7 linked regions of the Homo sapiens genome follow. The protein of the gene in region 7 interacts with the protein of the main gene of each other region in a pairwise test. Each region holds a gene or a part of one and is shown on either strand. Other genes may lie near its edges.

What was found.
Region 1: the proteins of KIF3A (region 7) and MORC3 interact in a two-hybrid assay, tested with the Homo sapiens proteins (one large-scale study listed by BioGRID and IntAct).
Region 2: the proteins of KIF3A (region 7) and TRIM14 interact in a two-hybrid assay, tested with the Homo sapiens proteins (one large-scale study listed by BioGRID).
Region 3: the proteins of KIF3A (region 7) and TULP3 interact in a two-hybrid assay, tested with the Homo sapiens proteins (one large-scale study listed by BioGRID and IntAct).
Region 4: the proteins of KIF3A (region 7) and HUNK interact in a two-hybrid assay, tested with the Homo sapiens proteins (one large-scale study listed by BioGRID and IntAct).
Region 5: the proteins of KIF3A (region 7) and DSCAM interact in a two-hybrid assay, tested with the Homo sapiens proteins (one large-scale study listed by BioGRID and IntAct).
Region 6: the proteins of KIF3A (region 7) and PLEKHA5 interact in a two-hybrid assay, tested with the Homo sapiens proteins (one large-scale study listed by BioGRID and IntAct).

What each region holds. Positions count from the first base shown.
Region 1 is NC_000021.9:36,368,007-36,372,493, reverse strand, and holds part of MORC3 (MORC family CW-type zinc finger protein 3), read right to left. Parts: intron 3,507-4,487; coding exon 2,618-3,506; intron 121-2,617; coding exon 1-120.
Region 2 is NC_000009.12:98,098,304-98,102,790, forward strand, and holds part of TRIM14 (tripartite motif-containing protein 14), read right to left. Parts: intron 1,862-4,487; coding exon 1,628-1,861; intron 1-1,627.
Region 3 is NC_000012.12:2,938,041-2,941,901, forward strand, and holds the end of TULP3 (tubby-related protein 3), read left to right. Parts: intron 1-73; coding exon 74-245; intron 246-1,270; coding exon 1,271-1,404; 3' UTR 1,405-2,489; coding exon of another isoform or gene 2,490-2,686; 3' UTR 2,687-3,098; downstream 3,099-3,861. UniProt on the Homo sapiens protein: Negative regulator of the Shh signaling transduction pathway: recruited to primary cilia via association with the IFT complex A (IFT-A) and is required for recruitment of G protein-coupled receptor GPR161 to cilia, a promoter of PKA-dependent basal repression machinery in Shh signaling.
Region 4 is NC_000021.9:31,917,337-31,921,823, reverse strand, and holds part of HUNK (hormonally up-regulated neu tumor-associated kinase), read right to left. Parts: intron 1-4,487.
Region 5 is NC_000021.9:40,010,875-40,015,361, forward strand, and holds the end of DSCAM (cell adhesion molecule DSCAM isoform CHD2-42 precursor), read right to left. Parts: intron 2,513-4,487; coding exon 2,160-2,512; 3' UTR 125-2,159; downstream 1-124. UniProt on the Homo sapiens protein: Cell adhesion molecule that plays a role in neuronal self-avoidance. Promotes repulsion between specific neuronal processes of either the same cell or the same subtype of cells.
Region 6 is NC_000012.12:19,135,755-19,140,241, reverse strand, and holds part of PLEKHA5 (pleckstrin homology domain-containing family A member 5), read right to left. Parts: intron 1-4,487.
Region 7 is NC_000005.10:132,691,560-132,696,046, forward strand, and holds the end of KIF3A (kinesin-like protein KIF3A), read right to left. Parts: 3' UTR 1,072-4,487; downstream 1-1,071. UniProt on the Homo sapiens protein: Microtubule-based anterograde translocator for membranous organelles. Plus end-directed microtubule sliding activity in vitro. Plays a role in primary cilia formation. Plays a role in centriole cohesion and subdistal appendage organization and function.

The sequences.
Region 1 (4,487 bases), on a different chromosome or scaffold from region 7:
ACTTGATGTTGAAACATCTGTTGCCGTCTGTTGATTTGTAGATTTTAACTGTTCTACTTCAGTTTTGAGTTCTTCACACTGTGAACGGATTTGTGACTTTTCCATTTCCAGCAATTCAACCTAACAAAAATATAAATGAGCTTTATAACTGTAAAACTTAAAAATACTAATGGCAAAGTGAAATTTCAAGCTAATATAGAGAACCTGCTTGATAACATTATCAACTATCAAAAAACAAATACACAAAGAAAAACCAGTAGTTTTCTATAAACAAGGCTTCATTCGTTTACAGCTTCACTTCTACATCTTTTTACACTGAGAGAATACAACATATTACCACTTGATTTAAAAAAAAAAGTGGTACCTAGAAAATGAAAAACCAGCCGGGCATGGTGGCTCACGCCTATAATCCCAGCACTTTGGGAGGCTGAGGTGGGCAGATCACCTGAGATCAGGAGTTTAAGACCAGCCTGACCAAAATGGAGAAACCCCATCTCTACAAAAAATACAAAATTAGCTGGGTGTGATGGCAGCCGCCTGTAATCTCAGCTACTCGGGAGGCTGAGGCAGGAGAACTGCTTGAACCCAGGAGGTGGAGGTTGCGGTGAGCTGAGATCACGCCATTGCACTCCAGCCTGGGCAACAAGAGCGAAGTTCCATCTCAAAAAAAAAAAAAAACAAAACAAAACAAAACAGAAAAACCAAGATACTAATGCCTAAATTATGTTAATGTCACAGTGGTTTTTATTTCTTGCATACTCATCAGCTTATAATTAAGTTACAATAATGAGTTTATGCTTTTTATAAACAGATGGTCCCTGACTTACAACGGTTTGACTTTATGATTTTCCAGCTTTATGATGGTGTGAAAGTTATATGCATTCTATAGAAACCACACTTTGCATACCAATACAATCATTCTGTTTTTCATTTTCAGCACAGATTCAATACATTACATGAAATACTCAGTATGTTGTAATAAACCAGACTTTGTGTTAGATGATTTTGCCCAAATGTAGGCTAACACAAGTGTTCTGAGCACTTTAAGGCAGGTTAGGCTAGGCTAAGATTTTGGGAGGTTGGCTGTAATTAAATGAATGTTGGAGTTAATGCTGTTTCCAACCTATGATGGGTTTTTCAGGACTGACACCATCATAAGTTGAGGAGCATCTGTATTTTGTCATTCAACTCCTGAGCCAAGACATCAAGATTAGTGTTTGCATGAGTAGCAAATATTCCCAAGGAAGAGACAGCACAGCACCACACCATGGTTCCCAAACTCTTTTTAGCAGGAAAATCCTTTCAAAGGCCTCACACACAAAAATGTATAAAATAGATTAAAAGGAGCTACCTGAATTTGAAGTAGGGGCATATGAAGAAGCTACTGATATTTATCATTTGTCTCTTGGTATTTATCGTTTTTCTCCTTCTTTCTCAGTAGAAGAACCCATGCATAAAGACTGCATTTCCCAGGCACCCTTTAGCCAGATGACTCAGTTCTGATAGTCAGAACACAAGCAACTCAGGCCAGGCATGGGGGCTCACGCCTGTAATTCCAACACTTTGGGAGGCCAAGATGGGTGGATCACTTGATGTCAGGAGTTTGAGATCAGCCTGGCCAATGTGGTGAAACCCTGTCTCTAATAAAAAGACAAAAATTAGCCGGGCATGGTGGCATGTGCTGTAATCTCAGCTACTCGGGACGCTGAGGCAGGAGAATCGCTTGAACTCGGGAGGTGGAGGTTGCAGTGAGCCGAGATTGGGCCACTGCACTCACTCCAGCCTGGGCAACAGAGCGAAATTCTGTCTCAAGAAGAAGAAGAAAAAAAAAAAAAAAAAAAAAAAAAAAAAAAATATATATATATATATATATATATATATGTATGTATGTATATTAATCAAAGATTTTAAAAGGGATAAGTCAGTTTCTCTCAGGAATCTTGAAAGACATAATCTAGAAAAATGAATGACTCCATAACTAAAGGATTAACTATACTTAAAAGCAGAATTGATGCCCAAAAAAGAACATAATTAACTGTATTAATGAGGTATTAAGTTAATATTGGTATTCTGAACAGGACATTTACCATACCTGGCTACCCCTAATATTTTTCAGGAATGCACATCTCAAGACATTGGAAGAACCAAAAATGCCCCTACACAATTCCATATGCCTCCAGGAGGCCCTCTCCTCAGTTGAGAACCAGTAGAATAACAGACACTCAATAAGAACAGAATTATTTTTAAGTGAAAGCATTCCAATCAAGCAATTGGCAGCTTTTTTTTGAGACAGAGTCTCGCTCTGTTGCCCAGGCTGGAATGTGGTGGTGCAATCTTGGCTCACGGCAGCCTCCGCCTCCTGGGTTCAAGTGATTCTCCTGCCTCAGCCTCCCACCACCACGCTAGGCTAATTTTTGTATTTTTAGTAGAAACGGGGTTTCACCATTTTGTCCAGGCTGGTCTCGAACTCCTTGACCTCAAGTGACTGACCCACCCGCCTTGGCCTCCCCAAGTGGTGGGATTACAGGTATGAGCCACCGCGCCCAGCCAACTGGCAGCTTCTTAAGGTTTAAATGGCCCTGGACTCCATGACTACATGTTGGATGATATAACTCACCTCACTTTTATACTGGTCCCTCTCAATACTGCATTTGTCCAGTTGTCTAAACACATCGTCAAGCTGCACAGCCATCTCATCCATTTCACTTTTACTCTCATTATTGGAACACTGGCTGCATTCAGCCTTTACATGTTGCAAAGCACTACATTGTTTTTTCAGCCTTTCTATTTCTTCCAAAGCTTGCTGATACTGAGATACCATATGGTCTGGACTTTCAGATTTGCCATTAATACTTTCAAGTAAAAATACAGCATCGGTTTCAGTGGACTGATGGCAAGTTTCTTTCTTAACATACTTGTCATTCATTTCTAGTATCCTCTGTTGTAACACTTTGATTTGATCAGTAAACATATGACACTGTCTTTTATAATTCTCTTTTTCCTCAGTGACAAGGAGTAGCTGGTTTCTCAGTTCTTGTAATTGGCAGCCTGCATCATCTGCAGATTTATCGGTGGTTTCCTGGGTTTCATGTATCTTTGCTTCAGCTTCTACACAGGAGGGCAGAATCACTGCATCATTTCTTACGTCTATCTCGTCTTCAACAGTTTCTTCTTTTTTAACAACTAAACTTGGTACTTCAGTCTGGGTAGCTGCAGTATTTCCCTGGTCGCATCGGGATGATGAGGTGCTTGTTGAACCAGTCTGGCCACAAGGTTCACTGTCACCCACAAACTCAACCTGAACACCACCTTGCTCAACGTGACTCTGTTCTGATTTCATGTCAATATCATGATCTACTGCAGGTTTGGGGGTACTGTTTTCTTCTAAGATGATGACATCTTCATCATCATCATCACCTTTATAAACTGAATTTTCAAACTGACTACTCAATCTCCGATTCTTTGCATTCAAAATTGAGGAACGAGTAGAAAGTCTCCGTTTCAAGCTGAAAAAAATTTTATACATAAAACATAAGATTATAAAATATGGACAAAATAGATGACCTTGAAGTAATCATTCTAACAAATGCAGTATTGTAACAGTTTTTTTGTTTTTTGAGATGGAGTGTCACTCTGTCGCCCAGGCTAGAGTGCAATGGCACAGTCTTGGCTCACTGCAACCTCTGCCTCCCAGGTTCAAGTGATTCTCCTGCCTCAGCCTCCTGAGGAGCTGGGATTACAGGCACCCGCCACCACGTCCAGCTAATTTTTATATTTTTAGTACAGATGGGGTTTCCCCATGTTGCCCAGGCTGGTCTCAAACTCCTTGAGCTCAAGCAATCTGCCTGCCACAGCCTCCCAAAGTGCTGGGATTAGACACATGAGCCACTGTGCCCAGCTATAAGTTTTGCAATACTAAGAAATACCCAGGCTCATTTTTTAAAGTGACGCATTGTATAGTACCAATCACTGATTTAATGAAGTAGAGATTATTTTCTCTTTTTACAGATGAAGACGATGGACTATTGAGATCTCTTTGAAGTACCAGATCTATTTACTGCCAAACATCTCTGCATTTGATCACCTCCAGGCATTTCAATGTACACATTTCCAGAACAGAATGCTACCCACCCCGGCCCCTTCTTTGTATTCTTCAGCTCAGGGAATGGCACCACCATTTTCATTTGCCCATAATAATTTTTATCAGTAATCAGTGATCAAAGATAAGCCATAAAGCAAACCAGTATTTATCCTTTCATATGAAATAATTTTATCTGAATTAAAATTGCCCCAATTTCTTCATTTGCATCATTCCCTGTTCATTCATGTTAATATGTGCATAGTTCACATTTATTTATCACCATTTGATTGCCTTTTTCCACACTTGGAGGAATATTTGTACTGGTTTGCTATTTGGGCCTTGTGTTAGACCTCCTAGATCTCAGGAAGGATTTTCCTCTTTTTTGGACTGTCTCATATTGGGCGAG
Region 2 (4,487 bases), on a different chromosome or scaffold from region 7:
GGCAAAGAAGGAAACAGGAGGAGCTCTATTAGTGGAAAAGCAATTCTAGTGCAGAAGTGACTGCACAGGGATATTGACACCAGACAACAGTTTCTTCCACGGTTCCCTAAAGACAGGAACACCATCGGCCGGGTGCGGTGGCTCACGCCTGTAATCCCAGCACTTTGAGGGGCCGAGGGGGGCGGATCACGAGGTCAGGAGATGGAGACCATCCTGGCTAACATGGTGAAACCCCATCTCTACTAAAAAATACAAAAAATTAGCTGGGCGTGGTGGGGGGCGCCTGTAGTCCCAGCTACTCGGGAGGCTGAGGCAGGAGAATGGTGGGAGGTGGAGCTTGCTGTAAGCCGAGATCACACCACTGCACTCCAGCCTGGGCGACAGAGCAAGACTCCGTCTCAAAAAAAAAGAAAAAAGTAGACAGGAACACCATCCTCAACAACATGCTTTCTCTAAATGTAGCAATGACTATCCCTGGGGCTAGTTCTTTTCTTTTTTTTGAGACAGAGTCTCACTCTGTTACCCGGCCTGGAGTGCAGTGGCATGATCTCGTTACTCACTGCAATCTTTGCCTCCCCGATTCAAGTGATTCTCCCACCTCAGCCTCACAGGTGCACGCCATCACGCCTGGCTGATATTTGTATTTTTAGTAGAGAGGTGGTTTTGCCATGTTGGTCAGGCTGGTCTCAAACTTCTGGCCTCAAGTGATCTGCCACAGGGGCTATTTCTTAGACTCTTCCTCAACAAAGCCCAGTGGCCAAGGAGTACCATTGAGCCAGCTGTGACTCAGCCTTTGAAATGTGCTCAGTAGCTGCAAGGACACCTGCCTTTTCAGGTGGGGTGTCTCAATTTAAGACTATAAAGGCAGGCTGATTGCGGTGGCTCACACCTATAATCCCAGCACTTTGGGAGGCTGAGGTGGGCGGATCACCTGAGGTCAGGAGTTCAAGACCAGCCTGACCAACGTGGAGAAACCCTGTCTCTACTAAAAATACAAAATTAGCCACGCATGGTGGCACATGCCTGTAATCCCAGCTACTCAGGAGGCTGAGCCAGGAGAACTGCTTGAACCCAGGAGGCAGAGGTTGTGGTGAGCTGAGATCGCACCACTGTACTCCGGCCTGGGCAACAAGAGAGAAACTCCATCTCAAAAAAAAAAAAAAAAAAAAAAGACTGTACAGTCAGAGGGCCAGGCAGGGTCCCTTGTGGGTTTAGAGTCAGACAGACCTAGACAGACAGCCAGACCTGATACCAGCTCTGCTACCTACCTGCTGTGTGAGACCAGGTGAGTCACTTCACTGAGCCTCAATTTCTTGTTTATAAAATGGGGTGAGCCCACTTTGCAGAGTTCTGGTGAATATTAGTGCTAAACTACACAGTGCTCAGGACACAGGGGCCTTTGAAATTGGTGGCTGTTAATATTATTTAATTAGCCCAAGAGGTGTATTATCTTCCTAACAATGTATATTCTCTTGACCACCTGTGTGGGGGCAAGACAGTCTACATGGTGACAAGACAATAGTCCATGTACTTGCTTAGTGTGTCAATACTGTGCTCAATGCCACAATACTTGAGATGAAGTGTGGGTGGCAGGTGGCAGCAGTAAGAGCAGTGACCCCAGCATTACCTGAAGCCTCTGGACAGGATCGGGCTCCTGGCTGATACTCCAGACCCTGTTGGAGAGATCATTCATGATGTCAAGTTGCTCTCTGCAAGAGTCAGCTTGTTCCCTGTACACCTGGAGGGTAAGCTGCGTGTTTTTATCAATGAATTTCTTGGCCAGCGCTTCCTCTTCGTCAAGTAGTAATCTGAGTTCAGTGAATTTCCCCTTCAGCCAGGTTTTACTTGACTCTGCATTAGCCTAAAAACAGAAAAACCAGTTGCAGATGACATGTCTGCCAACCAGGAAATCCAGAATAATCAACATGAAAAAAATCATAACGTCTGAAATGTGAGTTCAGTAAAGTGGCCAGTCAGACACAAGATCAACTTATAAAAACCAAAGCTTTCCTAAGCACCAGCCCATCACCGATCGTAAAATGCACGGAGAAATAAAGATCCTTTTGAAAATGGGAGAAAAAATAGCAAAATATGTGGAAATATACCTAATACAAAACCATATTCGTGACTGGGAGGGTTGATTACTATAAAGTCACTATTTGTCTCTAAATTAGTCTATAAATTTGATGAAATTCTAATCAAAATCTTAACATGCTGATTAAAAATTATTAAATCATTAGGAGAGAGAATAAGCATAAGAAAAGCCAAAATTGCTTTAAAAAAATCAATAAAGAGAAAACTGATAAGAGGTTATCTGCCTTATCTGCCTTATCTGATAACAAAACAATAAATCTACAGGATCTAAAACCATGTGGCTCAAGCATAGATAAGAGGTCAAAAGTACAAAATAAAGAGCTTTTAAAAGAACTCAAATTATATATGGAAATGTATGTATGTGTATGTGTGGTGTAACAGTGGCATTTTAGAACAAATTTTTGTATTTTTTGTACTAAAAATATAAAAGTAAAAATAATTAAAATAATATGAGATTTTCCACAATGAAAGGTTAAGGAAAACAAACAAAAGAGAAGGTCCAGTTAAACTAAAACACTGTACATAAAGCCCAAAGAATAAATCAATTAGATGAAATACAAAACAATTTTTATTTATTTATTTATTTATTTTTATTTTTTGAGAAGGAGTTTCACTCTTGTCCAGGCTGAGTGCAGTGGTGCGATCTTGGCTCACAGCAACCACTGCCTCCCAGGTTCAAGCGATTCTCCTGCCTCAGCCTCCTGAGTAGCTGGGATTACAAGCACGCACCACCACACATAGGTAATTTTGTATTTTTAGTAGAGACGGAGTTTCACCATGTTGGTCAGGCTGGTCTTGAACTTCTGACCTCAGGTGATCCACCTGCCTCAGCCTCCCAAAATGCTGAGATTACAGGCATGAGACACCATGCCCAGCCCAGAAAATAGTTTTTGATCATTAGATTGGAAGACTTTTAAGAGACTGAAATACAGTCTGTAAGGGTATGTGAAGTAGGGCATTTATATAAACTGTGGGTGGTAGGGTCTATTGGTACTTCGCTTTTAGAGGACAATACGACAATAGCTATCAATTTTTTTTTTTTTTTCAGACGAAGTTTTGCTCTTGTCGCCTAGGCTGGAGTGCAATGGCAAGATCTCGGCTCACTGCAACCTCCGCTTCCCGGGTACAAGCGATTCTCCTGCCTCAGCCGTGTAGCTGGGACTGCAGGTGGCCATCACCATGCCTGGCTAATTTTTGTATTTTTAGCAGAGACAGGGAGTCACTGTTGGCCAGGCTGGGTCTTGAACTCCTGACCTCAGGTGATCTGCCTGCCTTGGTCCCCCAAAGTGCTGGATTACAGGCATGAGCCACTGCACCTGGCCTCAAAGTTTTAAATACATTTATTCTTTCATGCAGCAATTCCTCTTACTTTACTTATATCCTAGAAAATGCTTTCACATGTGCATGAAGATTTGTGTACCAAGATTCTCAGTATATAGCTTCTACACATAGAGAATAGAATTGGGCAAGTGTAGTGGTAGGTGTCTGTAATCCCAGCTACTTGGGAGGCTGAGGCTTGAGAATCACTTGAGCCCGGGAGGTGGAGCTTGCAGTGAGCTGAGATCAGGCCGCTGCACCCCAGCCTGGGCGACAATGCAAGACTTTGACTCAAAAAAAAAAAAAAAAAAGAAAAGAAAAAAACATTGAAAAATGGGCGTCACTAGCAGAAACAGAAACAACAGCAGTGGGGAGCGAACGTTCTGAGAAATAGGGTCAACCACAAACAGCTCACTAGCACTCAAGCATCCTGTTACAAGCACTCAACTCACAGTCCACCTGCACCCAGGCATCCTGTCTGCAAGCATTCAGCTCAAGCAGCACAACCTTAGAAAACTCCACCTCCAGCTCCTGCCTCTTTGCAGACAGTCTTCTTTCTGCTGTCTCACCCATTGCTCCCTTTCAATGTATCTCCCCCTTTTCTCTAAATAAATCTGCCTTTCTAAACTCAATGCTGTTTTGGTAAATTATTTTATTCCCCTGTGCACCAGCCTCAGACAGTTGTTAACCATGACATATTTGGCACAATTTTCAATATGGGATATGTATATCGGTTCATTATATAAATTGTCCTACATTCGTACAATGAAATAATTTATAGCGATTACAAAGAATGCAGTGTGCTGATGCATGCTAAACATGGATGAACCTCGAAGACATCATCCCCAGTGAATTAAGCCAGACAAAAAAGGACAAATAATTTATCATTCCGCTTATGTGAAACATCTAGACCAGGCAAATTTATAGAGACAGAAAGTAGAGTCGACGTTACCAAGGGCTGGGAGAGGGGAAATGGGGAGTAATTGCTTGATGGTTTCAGAGTTTCTGTTTGGGATAATGAAAAAGTTTTGGAAGTAGACACAGGTGATGGCTATACAACATTGTGAATATAATTC
Region 3 (3,861 bases), on a different chromosome or scaffold from region 7:
ATTCTCCTACTCTACCTTCTACCTCGTAGAGTTGGAGTTCTCAGTACAAAGTAATGATTTTCCCTTTGGACAGAACCATGACAGTTTGCTCTCAAGGTGGCAGAACAGAACTATGGAAAATCTGGTTGAGCTGCACAACAAGGCCCCCGTCTGGAACAGTGACACTCAGTCCTATGTCCTCAACTTCCGTGGCCGGGTCACTCAGGCGTCTGTGAAGAACTTCCAGATAGTCCACAAAAATGACCGTAAGCCTCCAGGAGGGGTTGGGTGGGAAGAGGAGGACAGATGCTCTTACAGGATGGGAATGCACATTCCCTGTACATGATAGGAAGTGACAGTCAGCAGATAATCATGGAGGAGAGACAGGATTTCTTTGGAAAGATGAAACTACAGTTTTAGAGAAAACTTGTAAATCACTGTGTTGAGGAGGGGAGAGGAGTGTGAGAGAGATGCTATAGCAAATCAGAGAAGTTGGCTGGGCACCATGGCTCACGTCTGTAATCCCAGCACTTTGGGAGGCCGAGGTGGGCAGATCGCTTGAGACCAGCCTGGGCAACATGGTGTGAAACCCCATCTCTACAAAAAATAGAAAAATTAGCTGGGCGTGGTGGCAGGCACTTGTAGTCCCAGCTACCCGGGAGGCTGAGGTGGGAGCATCACTTGAGCCAGGAGGTCGAGGCTGCAGTGAGCTGAGATTGCATCACTGCTCTCCAGCCTGGGTGACAGCAAGAACCTGTCTCAGAAAAAAATAAAAAATCAGAGAAGTCATAGAGTAGGTTGTTTGGGAAACAAAGGCAAATGACCCCAATAAAGGTTCCTGGCAGCTCTAGCCTGCGGAGTTTATGACATTCCCAGCAAGCTGCTCTCTATTCTACAGAAACCTGGTGATTAACTGGCCTATTTGGAGGATTCTTTCTGTATCATAAATAGGATCCCAGCACTTTGGGAGGCCGAGGCAGGAGAATCACTTGAGCCTAGGTGTTTGAGACCAGCTTGAGCAACATAGTGAGACCCTATCTTCACAAAAAGTAAAATATTAGCCAGGCGTGGTGGCGCTTGCCTGTAGTCCCAGCTACTCAGGAGGCTGAGGTGGGAGGATCACTTGAGCCTGGGACGGGAGGTCAAGGCTGCAGTGAGCTGTGGTCATTCCACTAGGCTCCAGCCAGGGCGACAGAGCAAAACCCCATCTAAGAAAAGGAAGAAAAAGAAAAAGATTTCCCTGAGTGCAACCACATTATATTCTAACATGTTGATTTCTTTCTGTTTCTAGCTGATTATATAGTCATGCAGTTTGGACGTGTGGCAGATGACGTGTTCACACTGGATTACAACTACCCACTTTGTGCAGTACAGGCCTTTGGCATCGGTCTTTCTAGCTTTGACAGTAAGCTGGCGTGTGAATGAGAGAACAGTCAGGCAGGGAGCCCTTCTCCCCACAGAGCTTTCAGGAGCAGACAGTGGCCTCCCCTTCCCCTCCCTGCCCCAGGACTTAAAGAGCAATAGTTTGCCCCTTTTGGAATGATCTCTGAATATATAAAACACACACACAAAGAGCAATAGTTTGCCCCTTTTGGAACGACCCCTGAATATATAAAACACACACACGAAGAGCAATAGTTTGCCCCTTTTGGAACGACCCCTGAATATATAAAACACACACGAAGAGCAATAGTTTGCCCCTTTTGGAACGACCCCTGAATATATAAAACACACACACGAAGAGCAATAGTTTGCCCCTTTTGGAACGACCCCTGAATATATAAAACACACACACACCCCGCGCACTCTCACTCCTTTTCCAGGTTTCATAGACTTGGTGAGGGATCACAGCTTAGCATGGGTGAGAGATGATTTAAAGCACAGGGAGATTCTTGTCACATTGGGGTCTCCAAAGCTAGAATGGGATTTCATGTGCTTGGAAACTTGCAGTAGAATCAGGGACTGACATCGCAGTTCCTCTCCTCTCTTCATTCCCTCACAGCAGATTGGCCGGCACCAATCTTAGTCAAGAGTGGCTGTGATCACATTTGTGATCAATTATGTGAGAATTTTATATAATTGTCTTCATTTCAATTAAGGCTGAAAGCATAAACTCTAGAGGTGACTCAGTCAGGACTGACAGTAATGTGATAATTGCCTTCATTTTCAACCCAGGAGTGCCTCTCACAGCTATATGACTACGGATCCATTAGTGAGGAGCGACACACACACCTGTAGGCATCCTGTGCAAACACTTTGTCATTATCAAGAGAGATGGCAGTATTGACCATTTAGTTTAGTTAAAAAAAAAAAAAAAAAGGTGGCAGGAGAGGCTTTGGGGAGGATCAGCCAGCAGACATGAGCACTGCTGGCCCGTGTGGCAGAGCTGTGGACTTTCTTCTCGGCTCCCTCAACCCTGGCTCAGGCACAGAAGGTGTTTTGCTACGTTTTTTTGATTATTACACCCCTCCACGTATTATGTGACTCTTACACCAGTTCACCCTTCCCAGAATGTATCCAAACCTTGAGAATGCAGGAGCTCTGTGAGCTCCACCGTCAGCACCATTCAGCTGCATCCCTTGTGCACAGAACTGTTTGCCAGCGTTGGGTGGGACACCCGTGGCGGCTGCTCCCTCAGACCTCCCTTCTGTGGACTGACCTCTCACCTCCGCCTGTTGTTCCTGCACCACATCAGATAAGCATGTGAAGGAGGGCCAACTGGCAGCTGCGGGACCCTTGGCTTGTCCCCCACCGACAAGTCCCACCTGCTGGGTGAGGACGAGACTGTTTCCATCTCAGGCATGTATCCCACCAAGTGCCTCCCTCACAGCCATGCCCAGAAGCCTCACACCTCGTCACCACCACCACCCCCCACCCCATCCTGAGGCACTGCCTGGCAGATAACCCTGGTTGGCCACAGAAGCTATTAATACACGACAGCATGTGGGGAAGGACTTATGGTGGGCCAGGTGGACCTCATCCTGCTTCTTCCTCCCTCTGGTTTAAAGAGATATATAAACTAATTTCACATAATTTGTGTGTGCAGGTGATTGGTTTTTACATAAGTCCTATTTATACCTTTTATATGTTACAGAAATAAAAGTTAATTTATATAAAAATGTGTCACTGCCTTTGCAAGTCCTATGCCTCAGGAAGTTCCTACTGTCATGTTATATAATCATAATTGTCATCTTGGGCCACGTGCAGTGGCTCACGCCTATAATCCCAGCACTTTGGGAGGTTGTGGCAGGCGGATCACCTGAGGCCAGGAGTTGGAGACCAGCCTGGCCAACACGGCAAAACCCTATCTCTACTAAAAATACCAAAATTAGCTAGGTGTGGTGGTGCATGTCTGTAATCCCAGCTACTCAGGAGGCTGAGGCATGAGAATCACTTGAACCTGGGAGGCTGAGGTTGCAGTGAGCAGAGATCACACCATTGCACGCCACCCTGGGCCACAGAGTGAGACCCTCGCCTCAAAAAAAGAAAAAAAAATGTTTTGGTAACACATCAGTTCTGTAAAACCAGGTGATTACTAACAAACTTCTCATCCTGATGTAGAGCAGGAATCTGCAGACTAAGAAGGCTGTGTTCCGGAGGCTACCTAGACACACTATACACATGATAGCCAGGGGCATCTGGACAGAGGACGGGACCGAGAGCTGAGCTTAGCAAGGCCACAGAGGGTAGAGTGTACATTCTTTGCATGCCTGCCCAGGTCCGCTTCCCAGGTTTGTTCTTGTTGGCATTGTTTACTGGTTCAGCAGCAACACAAATGAACTATCTCATAGACCCCATCGCTTGCCTCTGAATGTTAACGTTTTGTTTGTTTTTTGAGACGAAGTCTTGCTTTATCACCCAGGCTGGAGTGCAGTGGGCATG
Region 4 (4,487 bases), on a different chromosome or scaffold from region 7:
AAAAAGAAAACAAAAAAGGGAAAAAGTCCAAACTAAAGGCAAACTTTAAATTAAACAAAATAGTGAACGAATCAATAAAAGTCTGGCCACCCCCAGGGTGAACTAAGGCATGGATGTCACCTCTTCTTGAGGCTCCTCCTGGCCTCTTGAATTCATTCTACACTCTGCCTCCAAATCAGTGGGTCTAGAACTCTGATTTCTTGCAGAAGCTCTTGAGGTCTCACTGCTGCCTATGGGAGCACCCAAGCATCTTCTCCATCAGCCCCACCACCACCCGGTCCCAACTCCTCCCAGCTCTCCCTCCTGGCATGTCTTGTCACTCCCTGGGACATGCATTCTATCACTCTCCAGGTACTCCAGCCACCCCCTTCCCCCACTCAAGCCCCCAACCCCAGGTCCTTCAGAGGCTAACCTCCCTACCAGAGAGACTCCCCCGCACCTTCCTTCCCTACGTCCCTATACAACAGCATCTGCAGTAAGATGTAAGTCATGGCTTAATGCAGGGACCACTCCCCCTTCACGACACACAGCGCTTCATAAACAGCAAGTGACTAATAGTGACTAACCAATGGAATCACCAAAGCAAAGATGGCTATAAACAGCATAATGTATTATCTCCTCTATAGAGCAGTGTCTCCTTCTTTTTTTTTTTTTTTTTTTTTTTTTTTTGAGATGGAATCTCGCTCTGTGGCCCAGGCTGGAATGCAGTGGCACAATCTTGGCGGCTCCCTGCAACCTCTGCCTCCCGGGTTCAAGCAATTCTCCTGCCTCAGCCTCCTGAGTAGCTGGGATTACAGGCACCCGCCACCACATCCAGCTAATTTTTGTATTTTTAGTAGAGACAGGGTTTGGCCATGTTGGCCAGGCTAGTCTCAAACTCCTGGCCTCAAGTGATCCGCCCACCTTGGCCTCCCCAAGTGCGGGGATTATAGGAATGAGCCACCGTGCCCAGCCCAGAGTCTCATTTTAATAGGGAGGTTCAGGCCCTTAATCCAAAGATGGGAGTAACAAAGAGTCAATCAGCCCCCAAGGGGACCAGACAGGCTAGAAGAGCCCCTGCCATCCACACCTCACAGCATGGGGCCTGCACTACCTCAAGTCAGCTCGGGCTGATGCTCTCAGCCCCCAGGAGGTAAAGTTACACTCTGGCTGTGTCTGGCCCCAAGTAGTTCAAGGGATGCTAAACTAACAGCTTTGTTAACTGTTACCCTCCAAAAACACATAGACACACACATATTTCATATCCATCCTCTTGGGGAGGTGGAGAAAAAAGAATGCTGAAAAGTACAATTAGGCATTGTCTTTGCTCCACTCCGTGTGGCAGTATCTAAAAAATTACACCCTCTGGCAATGAAATTCTTACAAGTACTGTAAACAAACAAGTCTAAAGGCCCAGCAGTAATACAATCTGCCTTTTTAACAGAGTACACAATTATAGTTAAGATACCTTATTGAGTTCTTCAATTGCCTGTACCAGGTTGAATAATGGCCTAATCTCTGGATCATGTGACTTTATTTGGAAAAAGGGTCTTTGCAGAAGTTATTAAGTGAAGAATTCTGAGATGAGATTAGCCTAGATTACCTGGGTAGGCCCTAAATGTCCTCATAAGTGTCCTTATAAAATAGAGAAAGAAGGAGTTTTCACACAAATAAGCAGAGGGGGCAGCCACAGGAGGAAGGAGGCAGACATTGGGGTGAGGGGCGACAAGCCAAGGAATGTTGGCTGCCACTGGAAGCCAGAAGAGGCAGGGAAGGATCCTCCCCTAGAGTCTCTGGAGGGAGCGTGGCCCTGCCAATACTTTTTAAGACTTCTGGCCTCCAGAACTGTGAGAGAATCAATTTGTTACTTTAAGCCACCAGAGTGGTAATTTGTTATAGCAGCCACAAGGAACAAATAGCTTCCCTGAAAATATAAGGAATCTATCTGATGCCCTTTGGGACGCATTTCCAGGCATGGAGAGACCCTCCTTGGCAGTGGGGAATGACGCCACCTTTCACCGGCAGCCTCTCTCTCCTCCTCACTCTAGCCCTTCAGCGTAGTCTCAGGAGCCTCTGACAATTCCTCATTGACTCCACCGTCCCCTCTGCTCCCGCACGTCCATGAGACCCACGGAGAGCAGAGTCTTCACGAACTCCCTCTCAGGCTCCACTCCCAGGGCTGAACCAGCCCATATCAGGGTTTTGCACCTCCATGAGCTATGTCAAAATAGGACCCTATGAAGCTCCACAATTGGTTAGCAAGTGTCTACACTGCAGACCACTCTGAACAGAAAGGACAGCCCAGGTGGCTCTTTCCATGAATCTAGACCTCATTATCACAGCCGTACGATTACAGTCATCCTAACAATTGGTGTTGGTTCCCACATGCCAGGCTTAAGGGTGCATGCTAGGCTTTTCTTTAGGCAGTTCTTCCTGTACCTTCCAACTTCTGTGCAAATGCAGTATTTCCAAGCATTTCTCCCCACTCTCTCACTTCTTGCTCTTTCTCTAGCCCATCCTCCTCCCTTTCCTGAAGGTGAAAGGACAAGGCAATGAGGTGATCTATGGTGCTGGGGAAATACCCCCTGGAAACCCCATCCAGCCCCTCATCCTCATACCACTCATTCCAGCCCCTCCTCCTCATACCGCTCAGTCCAGCCCCTCAACCTCATACCGCTCAGTCCAGCCCCTCCTCCTCATACCGCTCAGTCCAGCCCCTCATCCTCATACCGCTCAGTCCAGCCCCTCCTCCTCATACCGCTCAGTCCAGCCCCTCATCCTCATACCGCTCAGTCCAGCCCCTCCTCCTCATACCGCTCAGTCCAGCCCCTCCTCCTCATACCGCTCAGTCCAGCCCCTCCTCCTCATACCGCTCAGTCCAGCCCCTCAACCTCATACCACTCAGTCCAGCCCAGGCCTTGGGCCGTCGTACCAAGGCCTTCCGTGAAGCAGGCCCAGTGTGGTAAGTCGAAAAATGGCCTCCCAAAGATAGGCCCACATCCTAATCCCTGGAACCTGAAAATGTCATCTTTAGGGGGATGGGACTCTGCAGACATGATGAAGTTAATGGTCTTCAGATGGGGAGGCTGTCCTGGATTAACTGGGTGAGTCCTAAATGCCATCAAAAATGTCTTTAAAAGACGGAGGGGATCAGATGGACAAGCAGAGAAGAAAGCAAAGTGAAGACGGAGACAAGAGAATAACATGGCCACAAGCCCAGGAGATGCCCATGGCAGCCACCAGGGGCTGGGAGAAGAAGCAAAGTCCAAGTCTCCCCTTAGGTCTCTGGAGGAAGCGTGGCCCTACTGACACCTTGATCTCCAATGAGACTGATTTTGGACTTCCAGCCTCCAGACTGTGAGGGAATCACTTTCTGTTGTTTTAAGCCACCAAGTTTGTGGTCATTTGTTACAGCAGCTGCAGGAAACTAACACCCCTGGTGTGTGCCCTACCATCATCTGACACCTTGATTCCCAAGTTCTGCCATCAAGGTTCCCTCCATGAAAACCCTGAGCCCTTAAGCTACCTCACCTTGGAGAAGGTTTCCTATTAAGCTCCCTCTCAATTTTCAAATACCAGCTCATTATCAGCTTGTTTTCATCCACCCCCTGACTTACAAGCTCCATACTTACAAGTTGATAATACTGAAATGGAATGCCGTTCTTGATTACACAAAACCATTTAATCGACTTCATCTATAACAACTGAAATGGGGAAAAAAAATGAATGGGAAATTAAGGAAAAGTCAATCAGTGATCAGCAAAGGGAGACATCTAATTCAATTTGACAGTAATCAGAGGTTTGCAGGCAAAACAAAGCTAACACTGACTCTAACTGGGTAAAGCCTAATGCAATAATGGATCTCTAGCTGCAAAATAAACTACTTGAGTCGGGGGAGTTTTACAGAGTGAAATTAAATCTTTGCTATCAAATGGCAGTAAAATAAGCAAGTTTAGCATGTTCCAGGCAACAGGAGTGATAGCACCACACCAATCAATGGCTCTTACCAACGCTGCAGGTTCCCCGATTCACTTAAGGATGAGGCCCCCAGCCAATGCCGCCAGGGAACTCCCAATTCAGTCCAGGGGTGTGTGTGTGTGTGTGTGTGTGTGTGTGTGTGTGTGTGTGTGTGTGTGTGTGTGTGTGTGTATGTTTGGGAATGGGAGTTTCAGGAGGGTATCTAAGCCTGGATGTCATCATGAGCACAAGAAAAACAACTTTCTGTCAAAGATCAGTAAAACCGAGACTCATCAACAGATCCAAGTTGCAAGCCTTTTCAAAATTTTACAAAGGAATCAGTTTTCCAAAGATTTCCCCCATATTTCCAAGAAGATTAGTAGCAAAGTCCTGCAGTGGTGGAAAATTAGTAGAAAGAGAAGAGCACAGTTCCAATATATGACAGTTGAAAGAGATTATTCATCAACTTCTTTTATTAATTAAGAAATAGCAGCTTGTGCAACATGGCGAAACCTCATCTCACAAAAATTAACCAGGCGTGGTGGCTCGTG
Region 5 (4,487 bases), on a different chromosome or scaffold from region 7:
TAATAGACCCCTATCTGAACTGGAAGGAGGTGATCTTTTGAGACAATTGTTTGTGTGTTAAACTGATTTTAATGAGTATTTTTAAGGCAGGAGTCTTGAAAGCAATCCATTCTAGAGGCAGACATAATGTAGAATTTTTTTATTTTTGTACAGGTTGAGAGAAAAATGTTAAAAAGGTAAACTTCTATGTTTGGGGGATATAGAAGTTTTAGGTTGATGAAAGATAGACTTTTAATTTTTTCCCCCAGAAAGTAACATTTCTTTTGCATAAAAAAAAAACAGTCTGAGAGTATGCAAACAGTACACGTCAACACGGATTACATTCTGAAACCATGGATGCACACCTCACATTCCTGGAGTCATCTAACACTAGCATCAGCAGGTGGTCTTGACATGGTCCTGGACCCATTCTGTGTCACTGAATCTAAGCAGACAAATGGGCCTGCCTGGAAAATAAATAGAAGGAAGAAAGGATGGGAAAGAAGGAGGGAGGGAGGGAAGGAAAGACATTTCTGAATATGTTCCCAAGATGGTAATAACTGGCACCAGTCTATGTTGGTGGCCTTAATGGAAGCCTGTAGAGAATCTTCAGCCTGGGAGACTGAGCAGCTGTGGATATTTGATCATGTTTTCTGGTTAATGCCAAATCTCTGACACAAAGACCTGTTTATCTTTCCATTTTATGGAAGTGAGCCTGGAATGGAGTGTTGCAGCCAGGGGAGGATTACATCCTCTTTCATAAAGCAAACCCTGTGAGGGTTGTGGGATAAAGAATGCAGTTCCGACTATTTATGAGTAAATTCTCTCTTAGGATGAGCCACATGGGAGATAAAGTGAGGGAAAGGAAAGTAAAAACTTAGATTTTAGAGGAACATCACTTTCCTCTGGTTACAGAGGATTCAGGCAATGTTTATTAAGATGGTCTATCACAAATTTGCATACCAGGCATAGTGGAGATAGGAAAAGTCATGGAGGGTAAGATGCACGATCTTGCCCCTTGTCACGCAAGCTGGGGCTACATTTCAGACTCCAGAGCACGGGTCTGGCAAATGTTTCCTGTAATGGGCCAGGTAATAAATATTTTAGGCTTCATGGGCTATACCATCTCTGCTGCAACTATTCAGCTCTACCATTGTGCCATGAAAGCAGCCATAGACAATAGCAAATAGTGCATGTGGCCTTGTTTCAATAAAACTTTATTTAAAAAACAGCAGGAGGCTGGATTTGGCCCATAGGCCACAGTCAGTTGAACTCTGGCCATGGGCAGGCAAGGGGCAGAGCTTTGCGACGGGCTTCGAATACTTGGGCTGGCCTCTGGTTGCGGTGGAGACCAGCCTGCATTTTGTCCTCTCCAGCTTGAGAGCAGGAGCTGCACCTTCTTTGTGCTTCCTGGAGATTCCTGAGGAGTTCAGGGTGTTAGTATCGACTCTGGTTTATTGAATTGGGCTCTGGGTTCAGGCCTGGTGTTTCCAAACAGAAGTGTCAATGGGAAGGAGGACCAGGCCACTGGCAGAAGACGAGAGAAGCAGACATGGAAATAAAGGCAGACAACCTTTTCTTTTTTATTTCGCTTAGACAAAATGCAAAGAGTGTCTCATTAAATTAAAAAAGAAACAAGAGAGAAAACCAAATTGATTCCCCCCACCCCTTCACTGACGGCACTCATCCTAATTAACAACAAAAGAAGACCAAATTGAGAACCCGGTTTCTAATGGGAAAGAAAGGTGTGCAAACGTGACTGAAGTTTTCCCCTGCCCGCAAATCGGTGTTCCTTTTAAATTCACAAATAGGCTGATTTCCCACCCACCCTGTTTTCTTTCTTGCCTCTTGTGTGATAGAACTTCCAGTCAGAAGGTTTAATTAATCCCCCCCATGCACTTTTGTAGAAAATCAGTAAAAATGCAATAGCCTGTGAAGATCATAAAACTGGACTTCTTTCCCAAAAAATCAGATGCCCAGGCGGATGGAGCTCACACTCAGACAGAAAAAAAGCAGGAGAGTCTTTGCACTGTCTGTGGTTTCAGTATTTTCTCTTTTTTTTTTTTAATATATTTTGGCAATTTTCTTTAATTATAAATATTGGAATTCCGTAAAAAAAAGGTAGCTTTGATTGAATTGTTTGAATTGTATTTACAACCGCTGTCCAGTCATGCTGTCTGTTATACCAGGGTGTAAGATTTTGCGTAAGGATTGTTTCCTTTCAAATGGCCCCGGGAGTCGAGCAGTGATTCTTGGGAGCTGCTCATTTTAGCTGCCTGTCCCAGCTCTGCTCCCTCCCGCTGAGGTAATGTGGCCACGGCCCCCGGCTGCCACGACTGTCCTTCTCTCGTGGAGGAGGCGGAGGAGGCGGCTTCCATCGGGATGGGCTCCAGGACCGTGGGGCGCTTCAGGGTCCGGCTTTTCTGAGGTTCCAAGCATGCTTGTCCTAAGCTCAGGTCCCTGCTGGTGCCTGGACCACCTCGGTTTAACAAAAAGTCCATTCTAAGGTATGGAGGCAAATGTATGAGGTCACCTAGAAGGAAAGACAGGGTAGTTAGTTGGTGTCTTCATTTGGTAAACATGGGCAGAATGTCCTGTGTGCACACGGGAAGCCATGCGGGCTTTAGAGATGAGAATGCCGCTGCACACAGGTGCCTTTCTCAAGATCCTCCTTCAGCGCTCACCACAAAGACAGGTGGAATCGTCCTCCTACCTCCTCCCTGGGCGCGGGAGGAGCTCATTTTCCTACAGTACTTACTTACTTGTATTAACTTACTTGTACAGAAATGGAGGAATGGAGGTAACAGAATCCTTCAACACACCATCGTTGAAAGAAAAACATACATCAAAGGCATCAGTGTCCACTGGGTACGAACGGTGATAGACCAAACCCCGCATGTGATTGGAAGTACAGGGAGAGCACAGGGTTTGAGGAGAGAGCCAGGGACGCCAAGCGAAGATGGACAGCTGGCTCTCGTCCTGGCAATTCTATGAAACCTTGTGACCTTGGCCAGCCACTTAGTTATGGGTCTTCATGATGGCTTTGGGTGAAAGCGCCACAGCTTATGGCCTTCTTACCAGGCCCTGCCTACCTGCTAACTTCTGCGTGGCTCTTCTGTTTCAGCCATGCTGTGTATAGAGATGACAGCAGCTTAGACCAGAATTCTAGTGTTTCTACTTCCTGCTTATGGTCACTCTGGCTTCTGTGGTGCCACGCAAACATAACCTCAGGTCTCCTTCAAGAGCATCTGCTGGCTGGGCACGGTGTGCCTCATGCCTGTAATCCTAGAACTTCGGGAGGCCGAGGCGGAAGGATCACCTGAGGTCAGGAGTTCAAGACCAGCCAGGCCAACATGGCAAAACCCCCTCTCTACTAAAAATACAAAAACTAGCCAAGCATGATGGTGGGCGCCTGTAGTCCCAGTACTGGGGACACTGAGGCAGGAGAATCGCTTGAACCCGGGAGGAGGAGGTTGCAGTGAGCTGAGATTATGCCACTGCACTCCAGCCTGGGTGACAGAGCAAGACTCAAACAAAACAAAACAAAACAAAACAAAACAAACAAAAAACCCAAACCAAAACAAAAAAACCAAGAGCATCTGCTGCAGGAAGGGAGGCATGTGTTCTCTGGGATGCTGCAAGCCAATGACAAGCGTGACAGGGCTTTTCTCATGGCCGTCCCCGCCCGATGCAGGATCTCCCTAACAGGCATCCTTTGCTCAGGGATACCCCATCAGCCTCACTGCAGCCTTCTCAGAAGTGCACCGCAGCCTGACGTGCCTCCAACCAATCCCTCCTTCGCCTTCTCCTCTCACAGGTGTCGGACCTCTGTTATGGTCTCCAGACTCTCCTTGCCACCTCCTGCTTCCTTTTGCTTCCTTCTTCACAAGAATTTCCCCAATAAATTCCTTGTGTGTCTAATCTGTCTTGCTAGGCGCTTCTCAAAAACCTGAACTGACACAGCTTCTTTCACCATCAGCTACTGAAAGGTCACCCTGACCTCTCATTGCCAAATTCTCTGGTTTCCTCTTCGTCCTCTTCCTACCTGCATTACTATAGCATTTGATGCCGTTGATATTTTTGTTGTTGGCCCTTTCAGCTGCCAGGGCACTGTGGTCTTCCAGATCTCTGCCTACATTTCTGGCCACCCTTTCTCACTTTCCTTGACTGGATCCTTTTCTCTGTCTTTCCTCTAAATACGGAGTGTTCAGTGGCCTGCTCTCAGGCCTCTCTCGGAAGGCTTGGCTGCTTTCCTCATTGCTTTATAAATAACATTCCCATCTATCTTTTCCATTTTGCTCTTTCTCCTGAGCCCTAGATGTGAATTTTAGGTGCTTTGCTAGGCATTTCCACACGAGTGTCCATCTGGAATTCTGAAGGCCACAGTCTACCAATTCAGTTAATGAAGGCCAACCCCATCCCCTCCCAATCCCAAATACTGCTTCTCTCCTGTGTGCTCCATCTTGTGTAACATTATCACCATCCTTCCATCCTTGAAACCTCAGAGG
Region 6 (4,487 bases), on a different chromosome or scaffold from region 7:
AGGATTTATGTGTAGTCTAACATACTATAAAATGTACTTATTTATTGTTTACTTTGACATTCTCTCCCCCATCATCCCACTCCCCAGACGGGCAGAATTTTTTGGTTTATTTCATTTACTGATGTACACTAATCACTAAGGCACACAACTATGAGTTCAAAATGTATTCAAGAGAATTGGAAGAACACATGAGTGAGTGACTAATTGGAAGACCTTGCCACTGGGACTGAGATAATCATTAAAATCAGTTGGCTAAACATTGTTATCTATTGGATGATAAAGAGCAGCTTCTGCAGCAGCTTTCTCCTTTTCATAAATTGCCATACCATACCAACCCCATCCCCCAAGTCTTTCTTTATATATAGCAATGCTTTCACTCAGGTTGTGGTCCAATCTCAAGACCAGGAGGCTATTTATTCTTCATCTTTCCAGTGACTTTACACTGCTCTATTCTGATCCACTCTGCAGGGGTTTGGAGCTTAACTGTGAGAAATGCCTCTCCCAGCAACCCCCACAACGGGCTAAGGCCTTTCAATATACGTAGTCAAAACATTAGATATTCTTCATAGCATTTATCACAGTCTATCTTACATATTTGCATGATTATTTTATTACTGGCTCCCCCACTAATTCAACTATAAAGTTCTTAAGAGTAGTGTCCATGTCTGTTTCATTCATAAAGCTTAAAGCACTTGGCACACAGTAAATATTCAATAAGCATTTGTTGAATGAATAATTAGATGGATGAATATGAAATTCCCAGCCTGAATCTATAAATAGCTAGATAGTCATTTAGGTAGCTGAGATAGGATAGGGGAGTGGGTTGTGTTTGCTTTTTGAGGGGAGTAAAAAGATAATGTCAGGAGTCCTTTGTGAAAGTCGGATTTTAGCCACCTGAAATGCTATGTCCTCTCAAGCAGCTCAAAAACCAAACCACCATTAATATGTCCACCTGGGGCTCCCCCTCCCACACCTACTCCTTTATTCCGGTCAAGGGTCTCATCATCATTCTTGTAGACACTCAGACACAAAGGCTTTGAGGAGCTTTTGACCTCTTTTTTTCTGTCAACCTCCTTGCTCAGCAAGACTCCTAAGGCCTGTCAGCTCGTCTTTAACATCTTTGATCAATGGCCTTTCCTTTCCATTCCCGCTGCCACAAACTTAGTTCAAGTAACTACCCAATTATGGCAACAGACTCAGAAATGGTCTCCTTGATTCCCACTTTGCTCCTGTCCAATCCATGCTGCCTGTATTGAAATCTCCCTAAAACCTTCATGTTGCATAATTAACGCTATACTAAAAAACATCTGCAAAGGCTTGCCCGGAAAATAAAAACCTCAGCCTGACATTCAAAGACCGGACACAGTATGGTTCCAAACAGCATTCCTAGACTCACCTCCCATCATCCTAGCATTTTCTACAGAACCATCACTAACAAGCCTAGTTAGTATTACTCATCACACATATTCACATATTATACGTGTTCCCAGCCCCATGAATGTATCCTCCCAGTCTTATCAACTCATCTGAAAGTGAATCCCATCTATACCCTCAGGCCTAGCTCAACTCCCACCTCTTCAAGTCGTTCCAGGGCAGCCCAGCCTAGGCTGCCTCTTCCTCCTCTGAATTCTTATGACTCAAACTAGCATCTTCTTTTTTTTTTTTTTTTGAGACAGAGTCTTACTCTGTCACCCAGGCTGGAGTGCAGTGGCGTGATCTCGGCCCACTGCAACCTCTCCCTCCTGGGTTCAAGCGATTCTCCTGCCTCAGCCTCCCGAGTAGCTGGGACTACAGGAGCCCGCCACCACACCCGGCTAATTTTTGTATTTTTAGTAGAGACAGGGTTTTACCATGTTAGCCAGGTTGGTCTCAAACTCCTGACTTCAAGTGATCCGCCTGCCTCAGCCTCCCAAGGTGCTAGGATTACAGGCATGAGCCACCATGCCGTGCCATTTTTTTACACCATTAACTCTAACTTACACATACACATATACACATAACTTTTCACCCTTAATTTCATCTTATATTTATCTGTTATTTAAAAAAATGAAACAGTCACAAGAAAAGAGCATCTGCTAACAAATTCAAAGAAATTCCATCCTGTATAGGACAGACAGGTCCTATGTAAGGCCCTGTCTCCAGGTCATCGACTCTTCAACTCTTCCAATACTTTTTGTGTTTTTGTATTGACCACTTCCTCCCCCTTCCTAAATATAGGCCAGCTTTGAGAATAAGAAGAAACGAAGGGGTCTATCCAGATTAGGGAAGAAAAAGTCCCTTGACAAATCCAGAAAGTGTTCTTAAAATGCAACCACTTGAGTTGTGGGGACTATTCTTTCCCCATCTTGATTAACTCCTTAAATAACTAGGAGCCAGCATCATCATCATCACAGATACCACTTCTTTAGAGGCTGACTAGATGCTGGGCATCACAGGAAATACAAGGAGGATATTGAGCAAACCTGGCCCTAAGCAGTGGTCCTGGGGCTAAAAATAAAAGAATTCCACAACAAAGTCTACTGAGGCTGGTAGTCCTGGCACACCAACTTGAAAACGAAAGAGACAACAACAACAAAAAGGCTATTGTGAGGATTATAGGAGTTTAATGCTATGCTGAAGTGCCTAGCACTAAATAAGTCTATGTTCCCCAAACCATCTCCCTGTTTTAATATACTGCATATTTATCTCTACACTACAAACTCCTTGAAAGCTGAGATCATAGTTCGTAGTTGTTTTGTAACTAATGAATTAGCATAAAGTGCTTTATCAATGTAAGGAATCACATATTAACAGTCCAAAACTCTTGTTATAAATATGGAAAAGAAATATAATGCCCACAAAGTGTTCTAAAGAATTATATAGCTCTAGTAATCAAAATTTGGTTATATTATTATAGAAAGTATAAAACAGTTTTTGGCCAGGGGTGGTGGTAATCCCAGCACTTTGGGACGCCGAGGTGGGCGGATCACCTGAGGTCAGGAGTTTGAGACCAGCCTGGCCAACGTGGCGAAACCCCTTCTCTACTAAAAATACAAAAAATTAGCCAGGCGTGGTGGTGGTGGGCACCTGTAATCTCAACTACTTGGGAGACTGAGGCAGGAGAACTGCTTGAACCCGGGAGGTGGACGTTGCGTGAGCTGAGATCATGCCAGCCTGGGCAACAAGAGTGAAACTCCGTCTCAAAGAAAAAAAAAAAGTAAAGTATAAAACAACTTTAAATATCAAATACATAGTTAATATATTCTAATGTTTTTTATGGCACTTGTTAGATTCCCCATCTTCATTCATATTTTGAATTGTGAAAATCTGAAGAAACAGATTTTTCTCCTTACTTGCAACGCTAGTTTTGGTAAGTTTGGAATTAGCATACATTAGATCCAGCTATTGCAGATATTGAAACAAAACCTCATACTCTATTTGCCTATGTAAGAAAAAGTTCAATTTTCAGAACTTAGAATTTTAAGTTAAAAAAAGCAGTATGAAAACATAACCTTAAAAAATTTGCATACTATTTTACCCCCGCAAATATTGTTTTGATACCCAGTCCTGCAATGACCTTTAAATAATCAGAATAAAGTTTCTCACTATTCAGAGAGCCTTAAGATTTACTTGGCACTCTAAGTTAACCATCTTAAAGCTTTGAAGCACAAAGGAATAGTAAATGACACATCCATTTTAAGTTACCATGGCCTGTCATTACAGAATCATTAAGCAATATTTTCAAGGAGCAAGCAGAAAGCTTTATAACTCAAACGTATAAGATTTTCTTCTGTGCTTTATGGGCTAAGTTATTTGCGTTCTCATAAGAATACGGAATATTTAAAGCCACACTTTACAAGTTATAAAATTCACTTATTTTCAGCATTCTTCATAAAGATAACAGCATAAATTAAGTTATAAAAACAATATGAAAATTCAATAATCAAACTCAAACTCTGTGTAATGTATTTACACACACAAACACATAGTAACATAATTAAGAGGCTGGCTAGCTTAGGGCACATAGAAAAATTATTCAGAAAAAAAGTATTAAATATCTTTAAAGATAAAGATTTTTGGCCAGGCACCATGGCTCATGCCTATAATCCCCCATTTTCGGGGACCAAGGCAGGAGGATTGCGTGAGCCTAGGAGTTCAAGATCAGGCTGGGCAACATAGGAAGACCCTGTCTCTCTCAATCAATCAATCAATCAAATTAGCCAGGCATGGTGGTACACACTTGTGGTCCCAGCTACTCGTAAGGCTGAGGTGGGAGGATCGCTTAAGCCCAGGAGGTCAAGGCTGCAGTGTGTTGTGATAGAGCCACTGCACTCCAGCCTGGGTGACACAGTGAAACCCCCCTCAAAAAAAAAAAAAAAAACAAAGTAAGATTTTTCATATTTTACTGTTTTTTGGCCAAATGGATGTGAAGGAAAATACATTCTCTATATTACATATTTTTTTAATCTAGCTGCAAACTTGTATTAAAGAACCAATTTCAAAGTGTA
Region 7 (4,487 bases):
GTATTTTTGGTGAAAAATACAGTTTATCAATGAGAAGAAGCACATTTAAAAACATTTCTCCAGCTGGGCACAGTAGCTCAGGCCTGTAATCCCAGCACTTTGGGAGGCTGAGGCGGGTGGATCACCTGAGGTCAGGAGTTCGAGACCAGCCTGAACAACATGGTGAAATTCCATCTCTACTAAAAATACAAAATTAGCCAGGCATGGTGGTGCATGCCTGTAATCCCAGCTACTCAGGAGGCTGAGGCAGGAGAATTGCTTGAATCCAGGAGGTGGAGGTTGCAGTGAGCTAAGACTGTGCCACTGCACTCCAGCCCGGGCAACAAGAGCAAAACTCTGTCTCAAAAAATAAGATAAATAAAATAAAATAATAAATAAAATAAAATAAAATAAAATAAAATTTAAAATAAAATAAAATAAAATTTAATTAAAAAAAAAGTTTCTCCAAAGAATCAAACTAAATGTCCATCAATGACAGATTGGATGAAGAAAATGTGGTACATATACACCATGGAATATTATGCAGCCATAAAAATGAATGAGATCATGTCTTTTGTGGGAACATGGATAGAGCTAGAGGCTATTATCCTTAGCAAACTAACATAGGAACAGAAAACCAAATACCGCATGTTGTCACTTATAAGTGGGAGCCAAATGATAAGATCTTATGAACACGAAGAAGGAAACAACAGACACTGGAGTCTACTTGAGGGGAGAGGATGAGAGAAGGGAGAAGAGCAGAAAAGATAACTATTGGGTATTGGGCTTAATACCTGGGTGATGAAATAATCTGTACAACAAAACCCCATGAGATGTGTTTACCTATGTAACAAACCTTCACATGTACCGCCAAACCTAAAAGTTTAAAGATGTAAATAACATCTCTCCCAGATTTGCTTCATGATTTCTGCTTAAAAGACCCACAACATTAAGCGTTTCTGGGTGTGAAACTACACAGGCCTCTCTTAACCACAAATTGAGATGCCAAGCACAAAGAACCTGCTCATTAATATCAGGGTGGAAGTAACCACAAAGATAGTTGAGAAAAGCAGCAGACCACTACTACAGGCATTAGGTAAAAGATTTTTATTCTTATTTAACCATGCTGCATGTATACATACAATACCAATATATACAACTTGAACAAATACAATTTATACATAAAATACAATGAAAGCATGGCTTTTGAAACTGATGCAACAAACTGTAATTTGTAATTTTGGCCAGCATACAGTATTATAGTAATGCTACTGAAGTTATTCATTAAATTAGTCAGACTACAGTATAAGTTCAAAGGCACTAGAAACATCTATGTTTTCTTCTAGTATTTTTAAGAACAAAAAATAATTTAAAATAAAACAAATGTATACATTAGGAAATTGGGCAGACATTGGTGTACTTAAATGTAAACGCTACCCATTCCTTAATTCACAGCCCTGTAGGAAAGAAGACTTTCCTTAAGAGTTAAGGGGAAGGATATTAAAAACAGACTAAAAGGAAACAAACAAAACAAAAAACAACCAAAAACCATAATCATAGTTTTAAAAACATGTTACAGAGGAAGTAGCACCACCCCCTCCCCCAATAAAACCTTAAATTTTTGCTGTAAAAAGAAAAAAAAAACAACTCCCTTTCTCCAGAAAGGAAATGAAATGGCTTGTCAAATGGATTCTATTCATGGGGCAAACATGGAGATGCGACCCTTCCCTTGATTACTCATCTCATGCTTTATAAGAATCTAAACACAAATAGGAAACACGATGATAATTTTAACATCCTATTAGTATATGTAATTGTAAGGATTATTAAAGAAGATACTATAAACCAATAATTCTACCAATGCTCCTTTTAATAAATAAATATCACTTTTTAAATTAAAGGGAAAAGAGAATACCCATTCAATAACCTATTTATATATATGTGCCACTCATTTTAAATCTGCATATTTATTTCAAAAAATGAGCAAGTGTGTTCATCTATATCGTCTCACGAAATTAACACTGACCTTACAACATATTTCATTTGTGGACAAAGACACAGTAAATGTGAGGAAACTACAGAATTGCTATGACTGGAGCTAAATGAATAGCTCTGAAGTCAGTGTCCCATATTTGCATATAGATATTCAGACCAGGCTTGAGGCCAGGCGTGGTGGCTCACACCTGTAATCCCAGCACTTTGGGAGGCTGAGGCGGGCGGATCACAAAGTCAGGTGAGACCAGCCTGGCCAACATGGTGAAACCCGGTCTCTACTAAAAAAAAAATACAAAAATTAGCTGGGTGTGGTGGCGCAAACCTGTAATCCCAGCTACTCAAGAGGCTGAGGCAGGAGAATCCCTTGAACCCAGGAGGCAGAGGTTGCAGTGAGCCGAGATCGCGCCACTGCACTCCAGCCTGGGCGACAGAGTAAGACTCCGTCTCAAAAAAAAAAAAAAGATATTCAGGCCAGGCTTATGTATCAAATTTTGGTATTTCTGAGATGGATATTTAATGTCCATCTGGTATAATCAGTTTTAACATAATGCTTTTTTTAAAAAACTGCTATAGTAGGCGGGGTGTGGTGGCTCAGGCCTATAATCATGCCTGTAATCCCAGCACTTCGGGAGCCTGAGGCGGGTGGATCACTTAAGCTCTAGGAGTTCAAGACAGGCCCGGGCAACATGGCAAAACCCCATCTCTACAAAAAAATACAAAAATTAGCCGAGCATGATGGCATACAGCTGTAGTTCCAGCAACTCAGGAGGCTGAAGAGACAGAGGTTACAGTGAGCCGAGATTGTCCCACTGCACTCCAGCCTAGGTAATAGAGCCAGACTCCGTCTCCAAACAAAAAACAAACACCCCTGCTATAGTAGCCTGCTTTTAGAACTTCTCAATTGACTTTTTATAGATCGGCTTTTTATTTTGACTTTTTATAGATTTATTTTTATTATCATGGTAGGGTGGGATAGAAAAAATATCTAACATACTGGCTTAAATTTCCATGTTTTAAAGCTTGATTTAAAAGTTACTCCTTTCCTATTAACTGAATTGTTAAAGGTTAGAAACATGAACTTTTAAAAAGAAGCGTTTTTTTTAAACTGGTAAAATTAAGATTTCTTTAGAGTAATTACTAACAGAGTTAAATGTGTATCATCAAAAACATTTTATAATTACCAAAATATTCTGATCACACAAAGCTTTTACAAGACACATATTTACCTCAACTCTTCACAGTATCTAAACAATGCCCCACAGAGTTAAGTAATAAATTTCTAGCTATCTTACATACCACAAACAAATGCAGCCAGTGAAATGCAATTCTAATCACCTAGAAAATGTTCACCACACACAGGACATTCAGTATTCCAATTACAGAATGGACTTTAAATTTATGGGTACATTTTTATCGCCACCTCAAGAGTACTCCACCTTCACTCACCCCTACTCTATACACAGCTTTGTCATTTAAACTAGGATTTAACAAAACTTATTAAAATAATATTAATTTAATAAATACTAACTTATAAAGTCTCAAAATATTTTCAACCAATGTGTTTCAGGGCTGATTACATAATTTTGAAAACCACAAAACATATATTAAGTGGTTTAGGAGTAGCATAACTTTATTTTTATTTTATTTTTATTTTTTGAGGTGGAGTGTCACCCTGTCACCCAGGCTGGAGTGCAGTGATGCCATCTCAGCTCACTGCAACCTCCGCCTCCCAGGTTCAAGTGATTCTCCTGCCTCAGCCTCCCAAGTAGCTGGGATTACAGGTGTGCGCCACCACACCCAGCTAATTATTGTATTTGTACTGGAGACAGGGTTTCACCATGTTAGCCAGGCTGGTCTCGAACTCCTGACATCAAGTGATCCACGTGCCTCGGCCTCCCAAAGTGCTGGGATTACAGGCGTGAGCCACCATGCCCGGCCAGGAGTAGCATAACTTTAAAAAAATACAATAAAAGTTTCATAAGCAGCTAACAACAGAAAAAAATAATTATCTCTATTACAACTTACTTTACTATGAAATCAACATAGTTTTTATTTGTAGAGGAATATGGTCTAACTGGATTACCCAATAGAAGAAATTCAGAAAATAATATTTTATTTTTAAAATAGAAAAACAAAATAAAAAAGTGTTTTAAAGGCAAAGTATTTAAAAGATATTTTTCTTGCTTAGCTGTATTTTCTGGAAAATGGAGACTCTTCTTAACTGGGAGACATAAAGTAATTCCCACCAAAATTTAGAACTCAAAGAAAAGCATCCATAACACTTCAGAGTGAATTTTTAAAAATATACACGCAGGCAAAGATAACTGAGCAGTATTTAGCTTCTTAATTTTCCGCAACAGTAGATCCTTTATATTTACGTACAATTCAATGTTTCAAGAGAACATGAAACCAGAACTTAAGGTGTATTTGATTTGAACTCAAACTGGCAAAAAAAAGTTAGGAAAGGTTCAGATGAAACATTTTCAACTTGTTAAAAAACATGTATACTCGCA